6 linked regions of the Homo sapiens genome follow. The protein of the gene in region 2 purifies or fractionates together with the protein of the main gene of each other region. This does not show direct contact. Each region holds a gene or a part of one and is shown on either strand. Other genes may lie near its edges.

The links.
Region 1: the proteins of SAFB2 (region 2) and MVP purify together in Homo sapiens (co-immunoprecipitation; one large-scale study listed by IntAct). This does not show direct contact.
Region 3: the proteins of SAFB2 (region 2) and HNRNPUL1 fractionate together in Homo sapiens (co-fractionation; one large-scale study listed by BioGRID). This does not show direct contact.
Region 4: the proteins of SAFB2 (region 2) and PACSIN2 fractionate together in Homo sapiens (co-fractionation; one large-scale study listed by BioGRID). This does not show direct contact.
Region 5: the proteins of SAFB2 (region 2) and RANBP3 fractionate together in Homo sapiens (co-fractionation; one large-scale study listed by BioGRID). This does not show direct contact.
Region 6: the proteins of SAFB2 (region 2) and LARS2 purify together in Homo sapiens (co-immunoprecipitation; one large-scale study listed by IntAct). This does not show direct contact.

The regions. Positions count from the first base shown.
Region 1 is NC_000016.10:29,833,962-29,837,461, reverse strand, and holds part of MVP (major vault protein), read right to left. Parts: coding exon 3,396-3,500; intron 1,759-3,395; coding exon 1,664-1,758; intron 741-1,663; coding exon 504-740; intron 1-503. UniProt on the Homo sapiens protein: Required for normal vault structure. Vaults are multi-subunit structures that may act as scaffolds for proteins involved in signal transduction. Vaults may also play a role in nucleo-cytoplasmic transport.
Region 2 is NC_000019.10:5,589,138-5,591,776, forward strand, and holds part of SAFB2 (scaffold attachment factor B2), read right to left. Parts: coding exon 2,611-2,639; intron 1,272-2,610; coding exon 1,141-1,271; intron 1-1,140. UniProt on the Homo sapiens protein: Binds to scaffold/matrix attachment region (S/MAR) DNA. Can function as an estrogen receptor corepressor and can also inhibit cell proliferation.
Region 3 is NC_000019.10:41,274,372-41,277,871, reverse strand, and holds part of HNRNPUL1 (heterogeneous nuclear ribonucleoprotein U-like protein 1), read right to left. Parts: intron 1,714-3,500; coding exon 1,574-1,713; intron 1-1,573.
Region 4 is NC_000022.11:43,008,650-43,012,149, forward strand, and holds part of PACSIN2 (protein kinase C and casein kinase substrate in neurons protein 2), read right to left. Parts: intron 1-3,500.
Region 5 is NC_000019.10:5,926,141-5,929,640, forward strand, and holds part of RANBP3 (ran-binding protein 3), read right to left. Parts: intron 1,948-3,500; coding exon 1,828-1,947; intron 1-1,827. UniProt on the Homo sapiens protein: Acts as a cofactor for XPO1/CRM1-mediated nuclear export, perhaps as export complex scaffolding protein. Bound to XPO1/CRM1, stabilizes the XPO1/CRM1-cargo interaction. In the absence of Ran-bound GTP prevents binding of XPO1/CRM1 to the nuclear pore complex.
Region 6 is NC_000003.12:45,489,576-45,493,075, reverse strand, and holds part of LARS2 (leucine--tRNA ligase, mitochondrial), read right to left. Parts: intron 1,560-3,500; coding exon 1,276-1,559; intron 1-1,275.

The sequences.
Region 1 (3,500 bases), on a different chromosome or scaffold from region 2:
TTTTATATTGTATTTTTACCTTACCTTTTCTATGGCTAGATACACAAGTACTTGCCATTGTGTTCAGCTGCCTGCAGTATTCAGGACAGTCACATGCTGCACAGGTTGGCAGCCTAGGGGCAGGCTACGCCATCTAGACTAGGTGCCATCTAGGTTTGCATAAGTGCACTCTTTTGCACAAAGACAAAATCATCTAAGGACTATTTCTCAGAATGTATCCCCATCATTAAGTGGCGCATGACTGTATCAGAGTTTCAGAGTCTCAGGCAGCGGGTAGCCAGGAGGCCTTCCCAGAAGGGGAATTAACTTCAGGTCTGAGGGGTAAGTCAGAGGCTGCCAGGAATCAAATGGGCCAGTGTCTCAGGTGTGTAAGAACTAAGCATGCAAAGGCACAGAAGGTGTTCCTAGAACGTGCGTCTGGAGGAGAGAAGGCAGAGGGCCTCATGCCACTAGAGGACATACATCTCCCAGGGCAGTCCTCTGTGGGGGTGTAGGGACCTCACCTTGACCACGCGCTTCTGCCCCAGCTGATTCTTGCCATCCGGTCCGACAGGGTCGAGAATCACGCAGTAGTTGTGGGGGCCCAGGGTGGTGATGGGCACAACCCCCAGCACCTCCTCGTGGACATCTGGCACGTGGGCCTCTGTGTCCTGCACTGTTACCAGCCACTCCTCCCCAGTGCGGCGGGACACTCCCCTGAAGTCCCGGAAGTTCCGCCGAGCCCGGAGGTGCAGGGCTGTCTGCAGAGCAACATGTTGGGTATTTGAGTGACCTGCCTCCAACTTCAGGGGATCTGCGAGCCCCATTGGCCACCAAATGCTCCCAATGCTCCCAGATCTCAGAGACAATTTCTACCAATCCAGGGATTGTTTTTTTTTTTTTTTAAATCGGAGTCTCTCTCTTGTTGCCCAGGCTAGAGTGCAAAGGTGCGATCTCAGCTCACTGCAACTTCCGCCTCCTAGGTTCAAGCGATTCTCCTGCCTCAGCCTCCTGAGTACAGCTGGGATTACAGGTGGGTGACACCATGCCCAGCTAATTTTTGTATTTTTAGTAGAGATGGGGTTTCGCCATGTTGGCCAGGTTTGTCTTGAACTCCTGACCTCAGGTGATCCTCCCACCTCAGCCTCCCAAAATGCTAGGATTACAGGCATGAGCCACTGCACCCGACCGGCTTTGTTTTTTTTTTTTTTTTTTGAGACAGGGTTTCGCTCTGTTGCCCAGGCTGGAGCACAGTGGCATGATCATGGCTCACTGTAACCTCTGCCTCTGGGGTTCAAGCGATTCTCCTGCCTCAGCGCCTCTGGAGTAACTGGAATTACAGGCATGCTCCACTACACCCAGCTAATTTTTAAATTTTTTGTAGCGATGAGTTCTCACTGTGTTGCCCAGGCTGGTCTCAGACTCCTGGCCTCAAGTGATCCTCCTGCCTCAGCCTTCCAAATTGCTGAGATTACAGATGTGAGTCATTGCGCCCAGCCCCAGAAAGACTATTTAACCCTTCAGATGATCCAGAATACTCAGGCAATCTGATCTCTGAATTTTTTTAAGTGACCCTAAAATTATTGCTTCTCTTTTACTCTCATGCCATTCTACCACCATTCTCTGCCACTCGGAGGGTTCCCTAGCCCCAGGTCCCTTAAACCACAGCCCCCAGAGCACCAACCTTTTCCGTAAGGATGACGGCGTCCACCAAATCCAGAACCTCCTCAAACACCGCTGGGAGGTACGCCCCTACTGTGGTGACCAGCCATTCTTCCCCTGGGCCAAGAGTGGAGGGTAAGGGACAAGGGCCCCCCAGCCTGCTCCCCACCTACCCCTCCCCCACAGCTTAGACACAGGGGATTGACAGATTTCATAGGCAAAAAGATAGCACTGACCCCAGGCTCAAGTTCCTGACTGCGGTCCTCTTATTCATTCTTTTGAGGCCAAACCCCCACCCCAGTTGAATTTTAAAAGTTTTTTTTTTTTTTTTTTTTTTTTTGAGACGGAGTCTCCCTCTGTTGCCCAGGCTGTGATCTCAGCTCACTGCAACCTCAGCCTCCTGGATTCAAGTGATTCTCATGCCTCAGCCTCCTGAGTAGCTGGGATTACAGGCACGTGCCACCACGCCCGGCTAATATTTGTATTTTTTGTAGAGATGGTGTTTCACCATGTTGCCCAAGCTAGTCTGGAACTCCTGGCCTCAAGTGATCCGCCCACCTTGGCCTCCTAAGATGCCCAAGTTGCTGCTATGCCAACAGCCTGTTCTGCCTTCTCTAAGCTCCAAAGACCAACTTTTGTCCTTCTGCTAAAACAGGCAGCAGAACTGCCTCTGTTAGAGTTGTGGATGTCCTTTGGTTTACTGGAGAAGCCAGAGTGCCTGGATGCAGGTCCCAGCCTCGCCCTGCCTGGCCACACCCCAGGGCAAGCAACCTGCATTCTGCATCCCAGTTTTGATATATAGAAAGTGGGAATGGCCGGGTGCGGTGGTTCACGCCTGTAATCCCAGCACTTTGGGAGGCCGAACCTGGTGGATCACGAGGTCAGGAGATCAAGACCACCCTGGCTAACATGGTGAAACCCTGTCTCTACTAAAAAAAAAAAAAAAAAAAATACAAAAAAAAAAAAAATTAGCTGGGCATGGTGGTGGGCGCCTGTAGTCCCAGCTACTCAGGAGGCTGAGGCAGGAGAATGGTGTGAACCCAGGAGGCGGAGCTTGCAGTGAGCCGAGATCGCGCCACTGCACTCCAACCTGGGCAACAGCAAGAAAGCAAGACTCCGTCTCAAAAAAAAAAAAAAAGTGGGAATGGTAGCACCTCGGGGTAGTACCTCTGTGGCCCAGGATGGAGTGCAGTGGTGCAGTCACAGCTCACTGCAGCCTCCACATCCTGGGCTCAAGAAATTCTCCCCCTTCAGCCTTCTGAGTAGCTGGGACCACAGGTGTGTGTCCAAGGCCAGGCTAATTTTTAAATTCTCTGTAGAGATGGGGTCTCACTGTGTTGCTCAGGCTGGTCTTAAGCTCCTGGGCTCAGACGATTCACCCACCTTGGCAAAGTGCTGGGATGACAGGTGTGAGCCACTGTACCTATTGGCCTACATTTGTCAATTGTATTTGAACATCTTCTTTGTTGATCCAGAATCAGGTAAGTCATGGCCACTGCCCACAGCTCATGGTGAAGGTGAGGGAAGGAAAAGCCACATCCGCATGGTCATGGTCACATTTTCCAGCCCAAGTGGAAACAGCATGAAGCGGGGGTGGGGAAGGAAGAGCAGTGGGTGGCCCTCAACAGCTTTCAAAAGATACCAGGAAAGCGCCTCTCTGGGGCTACAGGAGGCTTTCCTCAACCTTCCCCTGCTTCCCCTGCAGTGGGGACCCCTCCTGCCCACCCACCATCATCGCCCCTTGGTGACCCCACCTGTCACCCTCTCCTTGCCGTCCCGGTCCCAGCACTCCTTGCGGGCCCTGAGCCGCAGAGCCTGGTTCTGCCTGATGATGGTGGCCTGAATGATCTCCACGACCT
Region 2 (2,639 bases):
AAGCTCCCGTGTGGAACCTGCCCTCGGTGACCCGATGGCGCCCAGCCGCTGCTCACCATGGGTGAGTTTCCCGTTTACACTCCCGAGGTATTTACCATAACACCCAGCAAGCGACAGGACAGGAATGCTAATGAAGTCTCACAGGAGAGAACACTTCACACCAACTGATCAGAGCACTGCCACCGTCTGTGCTGCCCAGAGATTCAGGAGAAGCTTCGGGTGTCCTGGGACACTCGGCACAGCACCGAGTCAAAGTCCCTGGCAGAGCTGGAAGTGCCTCTCAGCGCGGAGGGAGGGATGGAACGGGGGAGCACAGGGGGCCAAAACCCACCCTGTGGCGCTGGGCAGGGTCCGAGGCAGCCCTGGGCCAGGGCTGGAGACAAGACAGGACACTCGGCTCACAGAGGAAAGCAGGGCAGCAGCCGCAAAGCAGTCCTGCCACCAGCCTCCTCACGGCCAGCCCAGACGGCAACAGGACAAACAGGCAGGGGTGACTGCAGCTGGCCAAAGAAACTAGAGAGGCACCCAGAGTCCTCCCAGACAAGCCCTGCCCCCCACCAATGCTGACAAGGCTCAGAACAGCACCCCCACTGCAGTGCTGGTGAAGGTGGCTTTGGACACCTGTGGAGGACCTGGCCCAGTGTCCTCAGCCCTGAGTCCTGGGTGGAGGGTCCTCCTAAGTGATTCTAATAGGCAGGATAGGGTTGAGAAGATCCACCCCAGACCAACTGGGGGTCAGAGAAAAAACCCGAGGAAGACACGTGTCAAGAGGCAACGTGGAGGCAGGGGCGAGGCTGCTCTACCACGGACGGGGCAGGACTAAGAGCTTCAGCGCTGTCTCTCCCAGTGTGTACGCAGCCCATGATCGAGACATTCACAACTGCAGGCGACCCCCAGCTCAAGAATGGGGATGGGCCATTCTGGGCGACCTGGACAGCTCCATCCCTGAAAGCCTGTTCTATGCTTTCTTCTTGAGAACCTGGACTTTCTGAGTCAGGGGTTTCAAATGGCAGGACCCCTGGTAGCCCATCCTAAAGCTCCCCTAGCTGAATCAAACCTTGGGGACGTGCCTGGCCAGGCACCAACCTTTTCCCAGGTTAGGACAGATGCTCCCCACCCGGCTGGGGCTCACCCACTAACCTGGGGGGAGGGGGCAGCCCCCGGCCTTCACTCAGCCTCTTGTCGGAGCCGTAGCCCCCCCAGCCATCACGGGAGTCCCGGCCGTGGCGCTCTGGGGGTCCTCCGTGGCCATGGCGGTCATCTCCATAGTGCTGGAAGGCAGGAGAGGAACAGGGTGACACTGACCATGTCACCCACATAGGCCCACCTTCCGGAAGGCCTGTCCACTGCAGGCCCCAGGGTGGCAGGTGGGGCGGAGCTGAGAGAGGACTGAAGGGTGCAGTCTCAGCCCTGCTGGGCCCTGCTTCACTGACCCTCTGCTCCCTGGCTCCCCTCCTCGCACCCCTACAGCTGCATCACTGCCCCACCTGAGCTGCCCCAGGAGCCAGGGCACCCTGGCATTACTGCCCTCAACAGCTCTGCTCAAGATCCACTAAGACGTCACCAAACCCTGTCTTCCCTGAGAAGTTGGGCGCCGCCTCCTTTCCGATAACAGGAGGGCCCTCGGGTGGGTCAGCCCCCCTGTGCTCTGGCAGGGCCACAATTCCGGCCTCCCTGGCCAACCAACTCTGCACGGAGCAGCCAGCAGCCAGGAAGCAGGCGGGTGCTGCCTGCTGTTACAGGCCATTACTCTGCCGCCCACCTCCCACCTCTCCACCAGGCTGCTGCTTTCTCAGAACTCACACCCTGCCACCACGCACGGGGCACCCGCATGGCACCACAGAGACTCAGGGACCATTCTTGTGGTCTTCAGCCCCCCGTGCCCACCAAGCACGGACTTGAAACATGGGGAAGCCCGGGCTCCCCCATCCCCCCGACCCTGGCACATGTGGGCTAAACGACAACCACCATTTGGGTTCTTGGGGGACCCCACAGGCACTAAGACCCAAAGGCTCCCTGAGCAAGTGGACAATGAAGAGACACATGAGGTTTCTACCGGATACAATGAAGAACAAGCCCAACATATTTGAAAATGACAGAAACTTGAGCATTACAAAACAATCAAATATTTGCGCTTTTTTTTTTTTTTTTTTTTTTTGAGACGGAGTCTTGCTCTTGTTGCCCAGGCTGGAGTGCAATGGTGCGACCTCGACTCACTGCAACCTCCGCCTCCCGGGTTCAAGCGATTCTCCTGCCTCAGCCTCCCGAGTAGCTGGGACTACAGGCACTCGCCACCATGCCTGGCTAATTTTTTGTATTTTTAGTAGAGACAGGGTTTCACCATGTCGGCCAGGCTGGTCTTGAACTCCTGACCTTGTGATCCACCCACCTCAGCTTCCCAAAGTGCTGGGATTACAGGCATGAGCCACCACGTCCGACTAAATATTTGTACTTCTAGTCGCTGGCCAGAACCCACACTTGCATACCCGCCACACGTGCTGACTTGGTTGCCACCTCTCTGGGATCAAGCGGCCGCCTGGCTAGAAATGGTCCGCTATGCCTGCACAGCAGTACAGTGGCCCCAGGGCTTGGCATCGGGGCTCTACTCACCTGCCCATCCCGGTGGTCTCCCATCATTG
Region 3 (3,500 bases), about 36 Mb from region 2:
CACATTTTAAAATCTCTGAAATCAGGATCCATTTTACAATAAATGTGATGAGAAAGCACTGCGTATGCTGGGTGCGGCAGCTCACGCCTGTAATCCCAGCACTTTGGGAGGCCAAGGCAGGCAGATCACCTGAGCTCAGGAGTTCAAGCCCAGCCTGATCAACATGGAGAAACCCCATCTCTACTAAAAATACAAAAATTAGCCGGGCAGGGTGGCACATGCCTGTAATCCCAGCTACTGGGGAGGCTGAGGCAGGATAATTGCTTGAACCCGGGAGGCAGAGGTTGCAGTGAGCCGAGATCGCGCCACTGCACTCCAGCCTGGACAACAAGAGTGAAACTCCATCTCAAAAACAAAAAAACAAACAAACAAAAAAAGAAAACACTGCGTAGTTTATTTTGTTGCAGTGTTTCTCTATGAGAGGTACATAAAATAATGCACAACTTACATCAATGGTGTCGTGGTCAATAAAATATAACCCTCTGTGTTTCAGCTTCTACCTCTAAAAACTGGGGCTAACAGTACCTGTTTCCAGATGGTACTGTGAGGATTAATGGAGATAATCCATGTAAAGAGCTTGGTGCTGTATCTTGTGCATGCAAAGAGCTCTATACTTATTAGCTATCATCAGTAAGTTTGGATACACAAACCACAGGTAAGAAATTGTTAACACAGAAGTTCCCTCCAGGGAGTAGGATGGTAGGATGGGAACTGAGAGGACATGAGAATAACCTGTTTTGTTTTTTTTGTTTTTGTTTTTTTGTTTTTTTTTTTTGAGACAGAGTCTCACTCTGTCACCCAGGCTGGAGTGCAGTGGCGTGATCTCGGCTCACTGCAACCTCTGCCTCTTGGGTTCAAGCAATTCTCTGCCTCAGCCTCCTGAATAGCTAGGATTGCAGGCACCCGCCACCATGCCCGGCTAATTTTTTTGTATTTTTAGTAGACAGGGTTTCACCATCTTGGCCAGTTTGGTATTGAACTCCTGACCTTGTGATCCACCTGCCTTGGCCTCCCAAAAGTGCTGGGATTACAGGCAAAAGCCACCACACCTGGCGAGAATAACCTGTTTTATCCTGTACTTTTCTGTGCTGTCTGAACTTTTGTTAAACATGAGCATCTATTATTTTCATAAACATAACTTGACATGGAACTGTGGAGAGATGACAGCAGAGGCTGGCCTAAGCTGGCAGTTCTTTGCCCTGTTCTCCCTCTGGCCTCCCTTTAATAAGTGACATCTGAGTCTATTCTTTCTAGATCACTTTTCTTCCAAACAACTTCTTTTCTCAGTTCTACAAACATGTCATCACTACACTGGTTGACTACATAATACCTGGGTCAAATCTCACCAAGGAAATATCTGCTTGATGAAGCAATGCATGGTTGGCCTGCTTTTCTGATATGATATTTAGCAATGATGTAGTTGTCTTGAGTTCATCACAGTTTTGTCTGCTTGGACATGGTATTGCACAATCCAATCTCTTTTGCAGTTGCAGCTCTGACCAAGGTGGCTGGTATCAGGATATTACAATGGATGGACTTCTCTGTCCCTTCCCCTTCTCTTGCTCCTACTCACCTTCATCTCGAAGCATACACGGCCCCTTCTGACCCCATAGCTGGCACGGGCTCCTGACCACAGGTATGCAAAGCCCTCAATTGTGAGCGGATAGCCACTACTCCGATCTCGGGCCACCTTGAAGTGGAGGTCGCAGTTATCTGTGAAGGAAAATGCCCACAGTTGGCTGATGTTTTTATTTTGTTTTGTTTTCTTGAGACGGAGTTTCACTCTTTTTGCCCAGGCTGGAGTGCAATGGTGCGATCTTGGCTCACCGCAACCTCCGCCTCCCGGGTTCAAGTGATTCTCTTGCCTCAGCTTCCTGAGTAGCTGGGATTACAGGCATGCACCACCACACCTGACTAATTTTGTATTTTTTAGTAGAGATAGGGTTTCTCCATGTTGGCCAGGCTGGTCTCGAACTCCCGACCTCAGGTGATCCACCTGCCTCGGCCTCCCAAACTGCTGGGATTACAGGCGTGAGCCACCACGCCCGGCCTGGCTGATGTTTTAGAAGTCCTAAGAAAGAAGCAGGCAGAGGGAACTTCCCCAAGTGCTGACCAGGAGTACACAGTGAACACATCATGGGGGCAGTTTCAAAAGGAACCAGCACACCCCTCAACCTCTCTCCCTTTGAGTAGGGAGGATGTGCAGTATTGCAAATTGGCCTGTATGACCTCAGAGAGGAACTGGGGTTCTTTATCTGGTGGGATCCAAGGATGGGGCTTCAGGGGTATCCTCAGAAATTGTCAACACATGTCTTTGGTGGGGATGTGTATTTGCTAGGGATAGGGTCCATATCCTCAGCAGTTTCAAATTAATTTTTTTTTTTGAGACAAGGTCTCGCTTTGTCACCCAGGCTGGAGTACGGAGGCATGATCTCGGCTCACTGCAACTTCTGTTCTCCTGCGCTTAAGCCATCCTCCCACCGCAGCCTCCTGAACAGCTGGGACTACAGGGATATGCCACCATGCCAGGGTGATTTTTATATTTTTCGTAGACAGGGTTTCGCCATGTTACCCAGGCTCAAACTAGTTTTTAGAATACAAAAAGGTTAATCACCACCACCATATATTCCTACCGCCCTCTGTGGTAATTCTATCAATTTGGGAACCGGACTTCTGTTTCCAATAGCTATACAGGGATCTGACCCTGATCCACACCTGCCACCCAGGAACCAATGCCCAGGTGCCCCATAGGCTCCTAATTCCTTTCATGGGCCTAGGACTCTCCTACTGTTGCTCTTACCCTTCTCAATATTCTCAATATTCAAGGAGCCAGTCACGCCTCCAAGAAAGCCTTTCCTGACCATCCCTCCCATGAGGCGCTCTCCTTTCTCTAAAGGCTGACCGTCATGATCTGTACATTTGCATTTCATCTAGACGCTGCCTCATGAACCACTGCCACCCAACACTTTTTAAACAATGTTTACCTCTACTCTGGGTAGATGTTGTTTTCGAGAGCTTGTGATATTAGAGATTGTGTATATTTTTATCTCTTACTAAAGCATGTAGCCAGTGCTTTATAAACAGAAGCTTCTGTAGAAATAGATGAATAAATTGCTGCTTATCTTCTGCTCTGTTGAGAAGTGCAGTGTTCTCAGACCTGATTGGGCTTCTGGGTGCATGTAAAAATTTAGATTCATAGGCTCGACCACTTAGACTCTTGACTAGGAGGTCTGAGCGAAAGGACCTTTATAATAATTCCTCCAAATGCTCAGATGCACAGTGAAGGTGAAAGCCACTTATCCAGTGGAAAGAAAACTGAACTGGAGGACAGACAGCAGGGCGGGCCAGGTTAGTGCCTCACAGGACACAGTGGCATTGGTTTCACCAGGAACTTGAGCAGCTGATGGAAACGGGAACTGGTTGTCAAAGAGTTAAGTTTCCCCAGCTGCACTCAGATTCCCTTCCTGATTAGATGACAACCCCTGTGTGTACAGGGCGGT
Region 4 (3,500 bases), on a different chromosome or scaffold from region 2:
AGCCAGAAGGCCACAAGCAGCCACTGTTGGACAGTCCTGGCCACTGGCACAATCCACACCCAACTTTCAAACCCACCCAGCGGCTCTGGGCCCAGGGAGGGGCCTCCTAGACTGCAGAAAGCATCTCATCTGTGAGGACATACTTGGATAGGACAAGTGAGACATTTGGAATTTTTACTTAACATTTATTTCACAACTTTCTCAAGTGCTAAGCAACTGAGAAGTAGTCATTTTAATGTACTCTTTCATCAATAAGCATTAAATAAGTCTGCTCAAAACACTCAAGCCCTACAAACTGTCCCTATGAAAAATGTGGCAAGAAAAAATAACAAAAACAAATAAGTAGCCTTTTCACATACAGAAAAGGTGTTTAGTGATCCAAATTCAGAGAGAAAAACAGTCCTTTCCGGCAGATGAACAAATAGTTTCCTCTACGAGTGACACATTCTGGGATATTTGAACTGCCAAACATAACTCATAATGACAACCACCAAGGAAGCAAAACCTAATGGAAAAGCCCCAGGATGGCAACCAGGAGCCCCAGTTCTGGTCCCAGGACGGCCTCTGGCTGTTTGCTCCATCAACGTGCTGACCAAGCCTGGCCCACTTTCTTCATCACAGGAAGGAATATCTATTGCCACCTGTACCACTCAGAAATGTTTTGAGGACAAAAGAATGAGAGGTGAAAGTGCTTTGGAATGTGCATCTTCTATAAATACAAGTCATCATTATTATTAGCTCAAAGATGACCAGGAAAATAGGATTACAGAATATCACAGGTGAGAGGGAGCTTAGAGATGGAATAATCCAGTTCTTAATCTGGGTCCACGCCTATGAAGCTGTCCCCCTTCGTGGGAAGGGGTCACAGTTGCTATCAGATTTGCAAAAGGTGAAGGTCCTCTAAGTCCTTCATTTTACAAATATGAAAACTGAGACCTGGAGTTCTGTGCTGATTGTCCCAGACCTCAGGGTTGGTCAGGGAAAGGCTGGACAAGAGCCCAAGGCTCCTAGTCTCCATCCACGCTCCTCCCCCTCTGTCATCTCATATTCTTGGGAGGAAAAATAATCATATAAATTTTATCTGGCCACAGAATATGTACTATAAACCACCACACATGCACTTTCCAAAGGTACAGCAAAATCTCTAGCCTTATTTATCATTTTTAAGGCTTCTTGCGAGGTCTTTGATAGTTGAGACATCATTTTATTTTTTCTATTTTTTTTTTTTTTTTTTTTTGAGACAGAGTCTTGCTCTGTCACCCAAGGCTGGAGTGCAGTGGCACAATCTCGGCTCACTGCAGCCTCTGCCTCCCGGGTTCTAGTGATTCTCCTGCCTCAGCCTCCCGAGTAGCTGAGATTATAGGCGCACGCCACCATACCCGACTAATTTTTGTATTTTCAGCAGAGATGGGGTTTCACCATGTTGGCCAGGCTGGTCTCGAACTCCTGACCTGAAGTGATCTGCTCCTTTACTTCCCATAGTGCTGGGATTACAGGTGTGAGCCACAGCGCCCAGCCCCATTTTATTATTTCTATATTCTCATCTCCGTCTAGTTCAGTGCCTAAAATCAAGAAACACGCAAATGATTTTTTTAGGATTGAAAATAGGCCAGGTGTGGTAGCTCACACCTGTAATCCTAGCACTTTGGGAACCCGAGATGGGAGGATCACTTGAGGCCAGGGGTTTGAGACCAGCCTGGCAAACATGGCGGAATCCCATCTCTGTTTAAAAATACATATATATATATATTTTTTTTTAATTGAAAATAAAAAAGACCGGCCAGGCACGGTGGCTCACGCCTGTAATCCCAGCACTTTGGGAGGCAGAGGCGGGCAGATCACGAAGGTCAGGAGATCAAGACCATCCTGGCTAACATAGTGAAACCCCGTCTCTACTAAAAATACAAAACATTAGCCAAGTGTGGCGGCGGGCGCCTGTAGTCCCAGCTACTTGGGAGGCTGAGGCAGGAGAATGGCATGAACTCGGGAGGCGCAGCCTGCAGTGAGCCAAGATCACACCACAGGGCACTTCCAGCCTGGGCAACAAAGCGAGACTCCGTCTCAACAACAACAACAACAAAAAAAGACAAGAAAGGAAAAGAAAAAAGACCTTATTCTAGGAAACAAGAAAGACTCTATGGTGCTTTAAGTTTTATTAAGCAAACAGATGAACATGCATTTATGGGAATAAGCACAATTCAATAGGTAACTTAAGGAAAGGTGGTTTTTATTTGTTTTATGTGTGCTTTTCATCAAAATGTCAAAACTTGTGCTCTTTGGTGGCCACTGTCCCTCAAGTAGTTACCTTTGGAACTGCAGAGATACCAAAAAATGATGTATTGTGCAGAATAATTTGAGAATTCTTTGAAGCCTGTCTCCAGTCCACAGACAGAGCATACTCATCTGAACACTAAAATTCTGCAGAAATTCCTACAAAACTATCCCAAGAACCACCACTGGGACGCATCTGGAGTCTGTCTGGGGCAGGGACGAATGATACTTTCTGGTATGTGAGGGATCAGTGCCCTGGCCATAAGGAAAGACTCTACCTGTGGAATGCAAACTGCCTTCGTAACTAAGGCATTGCTGCACTGCCCTCAGGTATGCAGCTACCATTCCAAACAACCTAACTGGAAAAAAACTAAGCCAGCACTATTGCTCACATGAATGTGGTCATTAATCGCATAATCTACAGGGCGGCCTCCACAAAGCTGCCATTACAATCTGATGGCAGATAAAGCAGGCCCGAGTCAGCTGGGAGGTTCACATGAAGGTGGCCAGAGAGCATCTGGTAAATGCCACTGCGAACTCTAAACACAAGGTGCCATCACTATTATTAAAGAAACTTTTCGATCTGTTTGATATTCCACAACATCCGGAATCATCCACTGATAACCCCTTCAGAATCAGTAAGCCTGAGCATGACGCCCTTAACACAGCACAGACTTTCAAGGTATAGAGAAGAAACAAAAGGCAAGGACATCTGCGAGGCCGAGGCGGGCAGATCACTGGAGGTCAGGAGTTCCAGATCAGCCTGGCCAACACTGTGAAACCCCATCTCTATTAAAAATACAAAAACTAACCAGGCAAGGTGGCAGGCGCCTGTAATCCCAGCACTTTGGGAAGCTGAGGTGGGCAGATCACCTGAGGTCAGGAGTTCCAGATCAGCCTGGCCAACATGGTAAAACCCCATCTCTATTAAAAATACAAAAACTAGCCAGGCAAGGTGGCAGGTGCCTGTAATCCCAGCACTTTGGGAGGCCAAGGCAGGTGGATCACAAGGTCAGGAAATCGAGACCATACTGGCCAACACGGTGAAATCCCGTCTCTACTATAAATACAAAAATTAGCCAGGCGTGGTGGTGGATGCCTGTAGTCCCAGTTACTCAGGAGGCTGAGGCAGGGGAATCACTTGAACCTGGGAGGCAGAGGTTACAGTGAGCTGAGATCGCACCACTGCCTCCAGCCCGGGCGACAGAGCGAGACTCTGTCTCAAAATA
Region 5 (3,500 bases), 340 kb from region 2:
CTATGCTGAGTCTGTCAAATGCACGATCTGCTTTAATCCTCACGAGGCCTGGGAGGGGGATGTTAGGGACCCTGTTTGACCAACAAGGAAGCAGAGGCTCAGAGGGTTAAGAAACCATGGCTCTGGCTGGGCGCGGTGGCTCGTGCCTGTAATACCAGCACTTTGGGAGGCTGAGGCGGCGGGGAATCACTTGAGGTCAGGAATTCGAGACCAGCCTGGCCAACATGGAGAAATCCCCACCTCTACTAAAAATACAAAAAATTAGCTGGATGTGGCAGTGGGCGCCTGTAATCCCAGATATTTGGGAGGCTGAGGCAGGAGAATCGCTTGAACCCAGGAGGTGGAGGTTGCAGTGAGCAGAGATCATGCCACTGCACTCCAGCCTGGGCGACACAGCAAGACTTCGTGTCCAAAGAAAAAAAAAGAATCCATGGCTCAAGTTTGCCCTGGAAGGAGAGGCTGGGATTTGACTGAGACTGCGAAGTGCACGTAAGCCTCTGACTTCTGCAAGAAGCCAACCCCACCAAATTCAAAGCAGCTGTCTCCCCAGACTCAAGGCAGAGATTCCACAGGGCCTGAACTCCACAGGCCAAGCCCTTCCCCGCCTCTTGCCCTCCCTCCTTGGAGGGAACAGCCCCTGAGGGACTCATTATTTTGCCTAAAGCCATGGCAACAGCAACATCAACTTTCCACGTTTCTCGACTTGGGCTTCTGTTGGACGGTGAGTAACAGAAAGGAAAGCAGAAAACACAAGCCGGTGCTTTCTGCATGCTAGAGAGGTTTTTGTTTATTTCAGGGCCCTCCCCGTCGACACTACTGACATGTTGACACTGGGCCCAGAACATTCCCTGTGGTGTGGCTATCCTGGGCACTGCAAGGGGCGGAGTGGCATCCCTGACCTCCAGAAGTACCTCCCAGTTGTGACAACCACAAAAGTCTCTAGACACAGCCACCGATACCGCCTCTCGAGCTTTGAAAGAAGCTTCTTGCCAGTGGAGCTGCTAGAGATGCCGTAGCACATTCCATGTCTGTGGCTGGGAAAGGTGGTGCTGGCTGACCCTGGTCTTCCTAGAGTCCCAGTGCATGGTCCAGGGCCACTGTTTCCAACCACTGCCATCCCTTCCCCACCACACAATCTCCAAACTAGGACCACATGTCTGGAGGGCAGCCAAGAGGTGGCAGACGCTTTGCTCCCTTTCAGGAGAGAAGACAGTGTTGTCACCCCACCCTGCCCCACTTAAAAAAAAATAAGGTGACAGTTCTTAATGGGGGCGATTCTACTCCACAGGGAATACTGGCCACGTCTGGGGACATTTGTGGTTGTCAGATGTCAGGAGCATTGGGTGGGTGGAGGCCAGTGATGCTGCTCAGCACCCTGCAGTGCCCAGGGCGACTCCTCAGAAACTAAGAATGGTCCAGCCGTAATGCTGCTAGTGCTGAAACAGAGAAACCCTGAAATACGGGAACAGAAACCTCTGGGCAGAGCTGAGAACACTGGACCGTGCTGTCTTTCTTCTCTGCTATGAAAGCCTGAGGCCTCAGGTTCAGTCACCTTCCCTGTCCCCGCTACCATGAGAACCAGGGACCCTGACTTGAGAAGTCACTGCAGGTGAGGGCTCCGAAGCCTGGGCTGCTGGTGGGGAAGTGCCAGGGCCCAGCACACGCACACCAGCAGCAGACTGTGCCGTGAGCCATGGGGCTGCCTCGCTAACACCTTCTTTGTCCCACGCTCCCCTCCCCTGTTAAAAGGAAAATCTACCTACTTGCCTGCTGTTGAACCTGGGGAAGGCATAAAAAGTCAATGTGCTGGTTCAACAGCTCACATACCTTAACTCTGTCCCTCAAGTTCTGCCCAAATACAAAGGCTTGCTGTGTGGCGGGGTCTTTTTTCTCACAGGCTTCCTCTTCAGAGGCATTGCTGGACTCATTTTTCTGGGGCTCTTTCTCCTATCAAAAACCAAAACAAAACAGAGTAATCAAAACCAGTGCCACACTTGGCCCAGACGGATGCCCAGCAATCCCACACCAGATCATGTACTCCACACGTCTCCTCTGCATGTGCCTGCACTCCCAGCTACTCAGAAGGCTGAGACAGGAGGACTGCTTGAGCCTGGGAGTTGTAGTGAGCTGAGATCACACCACTGCACTCCAGCCTGGGTGACAGAGCAAAAACCTGTCTCCAAACAACAAGAAACACCTGTGCCCTGCAGAAGCCTTAGTGCCGGCAGAGGACAGGAAATAACCTGGTTGCTCATCATTGGCCAAGGAATGAAATAATTTACAATAGAAAATATGGGGGAAAAAAAGTACAGCACAGCTATTACCACCGAGAGGGAGGTAGGCCTCTGACATGCCCACAATACATGGATCAGAGAAGAGAGCAGCTTGTGGGACACGGAAGTGCGATTCCATTTCTGTTAAAGCCAATCCAGTCCCGTGTGTGTGGTGTGTGTGTGTGTGTATGTGTGGTGTGTATGTGTGTTGAGGAATGCCCAGGAAAATAAGTCGGGAGAGAGAATTCAAACTACTGACGGAGGTTACCCGGGAACCTCTTAGCTGGAGGGTGGCTCCTGCTTGTTACTTTCTAGGATTTCCATTTTGTGTAAATATTTTCAACATGTAGGCATGACTTTTTTGTAACTAAATATCCTAAGACCAAATGCATTTATCTTGAGATAATGGAATATGGAGTTGCTAGTAATTTGTATATGTCTTTCCTATACCACATGATGAAAAAGGTGTTGTAGAATTTGAAAAGAAATTTTAAAAGGCTTTTGGCAGATCTTTGGAGTCTCTGGCGATGTGTACAGTGGACATGAACGTGAGGCAGGGAGTGTTTTCCTGGGAGATGTCGTGAAGGGACCTGACAACCGTGAACTCGGAGGTGAGAAAGGCTGCAGGCAGCTTCTGACTGGCTCAGCGTGTCCAGCGGGCAGGGAAGCCTGGAGTTACAATGCCAGGCCCAGAATCAGCGGATCACAGCGCTGAGGGCACTTTCTGGTCCAACTGTGAAGGAAGTGAAAAGTGTAAATGTTTCTCTACTGTGCTCCCTAGAAATTCTGCTACTGCTGACTTCACGCTGCATCCTTGTGCCTGTGCAAGAGTGAACGTGGCTTTTTAAAATTAAACACACAACGTGTTTGGCGACCTGGAAGTCCTCAGAGGATGGGCTAATCCCCAGCCCCACTGGGGCCGCCTGCATCCCGTCCAGCAGAAACACTCCCTGGCTCTTGGCTTTCTGCGCTGTGTGCCCCCTGCTCACACCGACTGGTGCTAATCCCGGGTGGGTGGAGCCCACAGAGTCACCTGAGATGGGGCAGGCAAACAGCAAAATGTTTCTGACTACAGGGTATGTCTATGACCTGGCGGAGCCTGCTTAGAGGATTCGCTTAAACTGATAAACGAATCCCGAGGCCTGTAACCAGTCTGAGACTCTGTGTGTGTGTGGGGCGGGAGGGGAAGCCTCTTCCCCACTTTCCCAAAGACGGTACCAGGAGTTC
Region 6 (3,500 bases), on a different chromosome or scaffold from region 2:
GGCCTAGGTTCTGCCCTCCAGTAATTCTGCAGCCAAGCAGGAAACCTTATCCTCATCAATAAGGCCACAACTGCTGTGCTGTATGCAGGCCACCAACATCTCTGGTAGGGAAGCCCTTTGTCAGCGCTTATCAACAAAGAGGGTGTGCTATTTTCCTCCTGGAGCCAACATTTCTACCCTAAAATGGTCTGGGCCTTCCTATATACCTCCCTCCAAGTTCCACCTTGAATTTCAAAACTGCCTCAGTGAGGACCTGGGAGGATGGCTGGCAAGTCCCTGGCTGGATGGCCATAAAGTTTCTATTTATTGAAGGCCTAGAAGGTATCACTGTGCAGGATCACATGTGTTAATTCTAGTCTTCTGAAAAGCCCTTCAATGGGGTTATTTTTGTTCCTGATGAGGGATTTCACGCTCAGAGAAGGTAAATGACTTTCCCAAGGCTAGACAGTTAGTTAGGAGGCAGAGCCAGGACTTGAATCCATCACTGATTTGACACCCAGCTCAAGACTTCCAATTACACTACGTGGTTACCTAATTGTCAACCTAGTAACTCAGCTCTATACTGGCAGAATACAAAATTATTTTATAATATCCTCATCATGATCTATAAGGCAGAGAAAAATGGCTTCTCCGCAGAAGAAGGAAAATACTGGAACTTGGTATCTGCTATTTGTTTAATTAGCTGATATGGACAGCATCATTAAAAATCATGCTTGAGACATGCCAGTGAATAGACAGAAAAACATAATCCCACTTCCAAAATGAGGAGAAAGGAACCATGGTGCTTCAGCATATTAAAGAATGCAGCCCTGAGCACACTTGCTCTCTTAGCAACTACTCTGCTACTCATGATAAAATCTCCACTGTTGTTACAGTCACTATATTGGAAAACTGCAAGGTGGAGAAGAGAACATTTTCTCCCCTCTCCACGTGGCTCTTTGGAATATCAAAATGGAGGAAAGTGGTTTTTTACAAAGCTGTAAGGAAAATTTAGAGCTTTTCCATCAGTTGGATCAGATGTTTCTGGGATAGATCTGAACTGACACTGCTGCTTCCAACAGCTCAGAGAAGGGAGGATGCCCATTGCAGAGGCAGGGCCACAGATTCCAGACCCTTCTCTTAAAGGGCCCCAAAGACCCACAGTGTTCTTTCCAGCCTCATGGAAGTCAGGGAAAAAGGGAGCAGAGTTAGCACCAGGAGGGAGGAGGCTGTCTGAAGCCCTAGCAGGTATGGGGCCATAGGCACAGTCACCACTGCAGGGATGTGGCTCCTTACCTTGGGCAGGAGCAGTTCACCCACTCTGAAGCCATGGCCAGTGGGGGGCCTCCCTTGCCAGTGAAAGACGCGATGTTGGGCAGGGTCACAGGCAAGTCCTCCAGGGGCACAGGTGTGGGGCCACAGACTGGGCAGTGGACAATGGGGATTGGTGTGCCCCAGTACCGCTGCCGTGAAATCAGCCAGTCTTTCAGTTTATCACTTGTCACGTCTCCACCCACTCTCTTCCCCCGGGCTTTCTGAGTCAGGGCTAGAAAAGCATCCTGCCGGGTCATACCTGTGAACTGACAGGGAAAGAAAAGAAAGCTCACTCCTCTCCGCATAGCACCAGTCACCACCCTGATGCTGCCACCAGTCCTGCCATGTTTATGTGTGGCTCTCCCAAGGGACCAGTTCTGTGCAGAGCTGTGTCATAACTTTCATGAGCCCTAGGTGCTTCTGCCTTTGTAGGCTCCTTGCTCCTTCAGATAATATTAAAAATTATATTTTACAACTGCATCAATATAAAGACAAATATAACTTTTGACCCTAAAAGTTCATTTTTTTCTTCTGATTTTAAAAGAAATTAAAACTTTTGCAGAGGCCTCTAAAAGTATTGTGGGCCCTAGGCACTGTGTCTACTGTGTCTAATGTGTCTAAGTTGGCCCTGGTTCTGTGGCTTGCTTTATCACCAGAGCCCTGTGACACCTACAGAGATCATCAAATATCAGCTTTTAGCTGCCAGTACAGAACTGCACGATATGGATTTTTAATGACTACTCCCCTGTTGGGGGGAAAATATTCAGAAAAGAAAAATCCAATATTATCCTAAAGCAGAAGGAATTCAGGCAAGCAGAGGAACATTCTGAGGCTTCGGCTTGAAGAACCAGACCACTCTTTTTATATTTAAATGCTCCCGTTTTATAGACAGCAGGACAGACCACTAACAGTACAAAAGAGAAATTATCTTTTCACTTGGTGCTTTTCAGAGAGCCAAACTAATTATATGAATTGAGCCAGTGTGGCTTGGTAACAACCTGGATTGCGGGTACCCTCGCATTTGTTCAGTGAAGACCCACTGGGCATCTATACGTGCTGGGCTCGTGCTAGCCATTGGGGCCACAAAGATAAATATGATCTTCCCATGTCCTCAAGGAGCTTACAGTCAAGAGGCATAAAGAATAAGAAAATACAGCTATGTTTATCAAAAGCAGCCCTTTTCATGAATGGTCTGAAGTGTCTTTCTGCACTCCCATTATCACAGTCGTGATGCAAATCATAAAAAGCTCTCCTGAAAGTCAGTCTTCTCCTAACACCACTGTCTTTCCATTCCAGAAGCTCATAGATGAAAGCGGCTTTTCCCCAGCCATTCTCCTTCTACTTATTGAAATAATTATTTTACTCTAGATATTCAGCCTAGAGCCAGGAGAGGCTTCAACAGACCATCTGAAGCTGTGTGAAAGAAGCCAGGAAGCATAATTAATGCTCAGAGTACTGTACTAAAGAGTGGATGCTTCACTAGGCACTTCAGAAGCCTAATTTTGGCCACAAGTGTCCCCTTTCTTGCCCTGTAGAGGGTTAACTGGGGCTCCTTACAGACACTGTGATTTCGCTCTGCTCTACCTCCAGGAAACCTGCTCAAACAAGGTCTAAAAAAAGGCCTAAGGGTCCATATCTTAGAGCATGACTCATGTCTGGGGATGCAGTTTATGAAGTAAAGCCACAAACATGGGGTTATAAAACATGGACTCCTTACAAAGGAGAAAACCTGACCATTATTCCTTTATTCTATAGATATAAATATAGCCAGATAGTCACAAACCTGAAAAACTTGGATCTTCAGGTCTCACTGAATCAAGATCAGCCAAGATGGGACCTGTAAGCACCTCCCAGGTGATTCAGAGCCATGGCCAGGTGTGGCATCACTATGTTAAGTCAGTAGTTCCCAGACTCTGCTGCACATCAGAATCAACTAGGGAGCTCTGAACACTATTGATGTCTGATCCATGCCCCCCTCACCACCAATAACCATCAAATCGGAGTATCTGGAGTGAGACCCAGGCATCAGTATTATTTTAAAACTCTCAGGTGTTTCCAATGTGCAGTTAAGTTTAAGAGTGCTCTAAGCCAGTATTCTCAAACTTCTAATGTGCATACAAATCATATAGGGATCTTATTAGACTAGGGTGGGATCTAAGACACGTGATGCCAGTACTGCTGGTCCAGGGACCAGACATTAAGTGGCA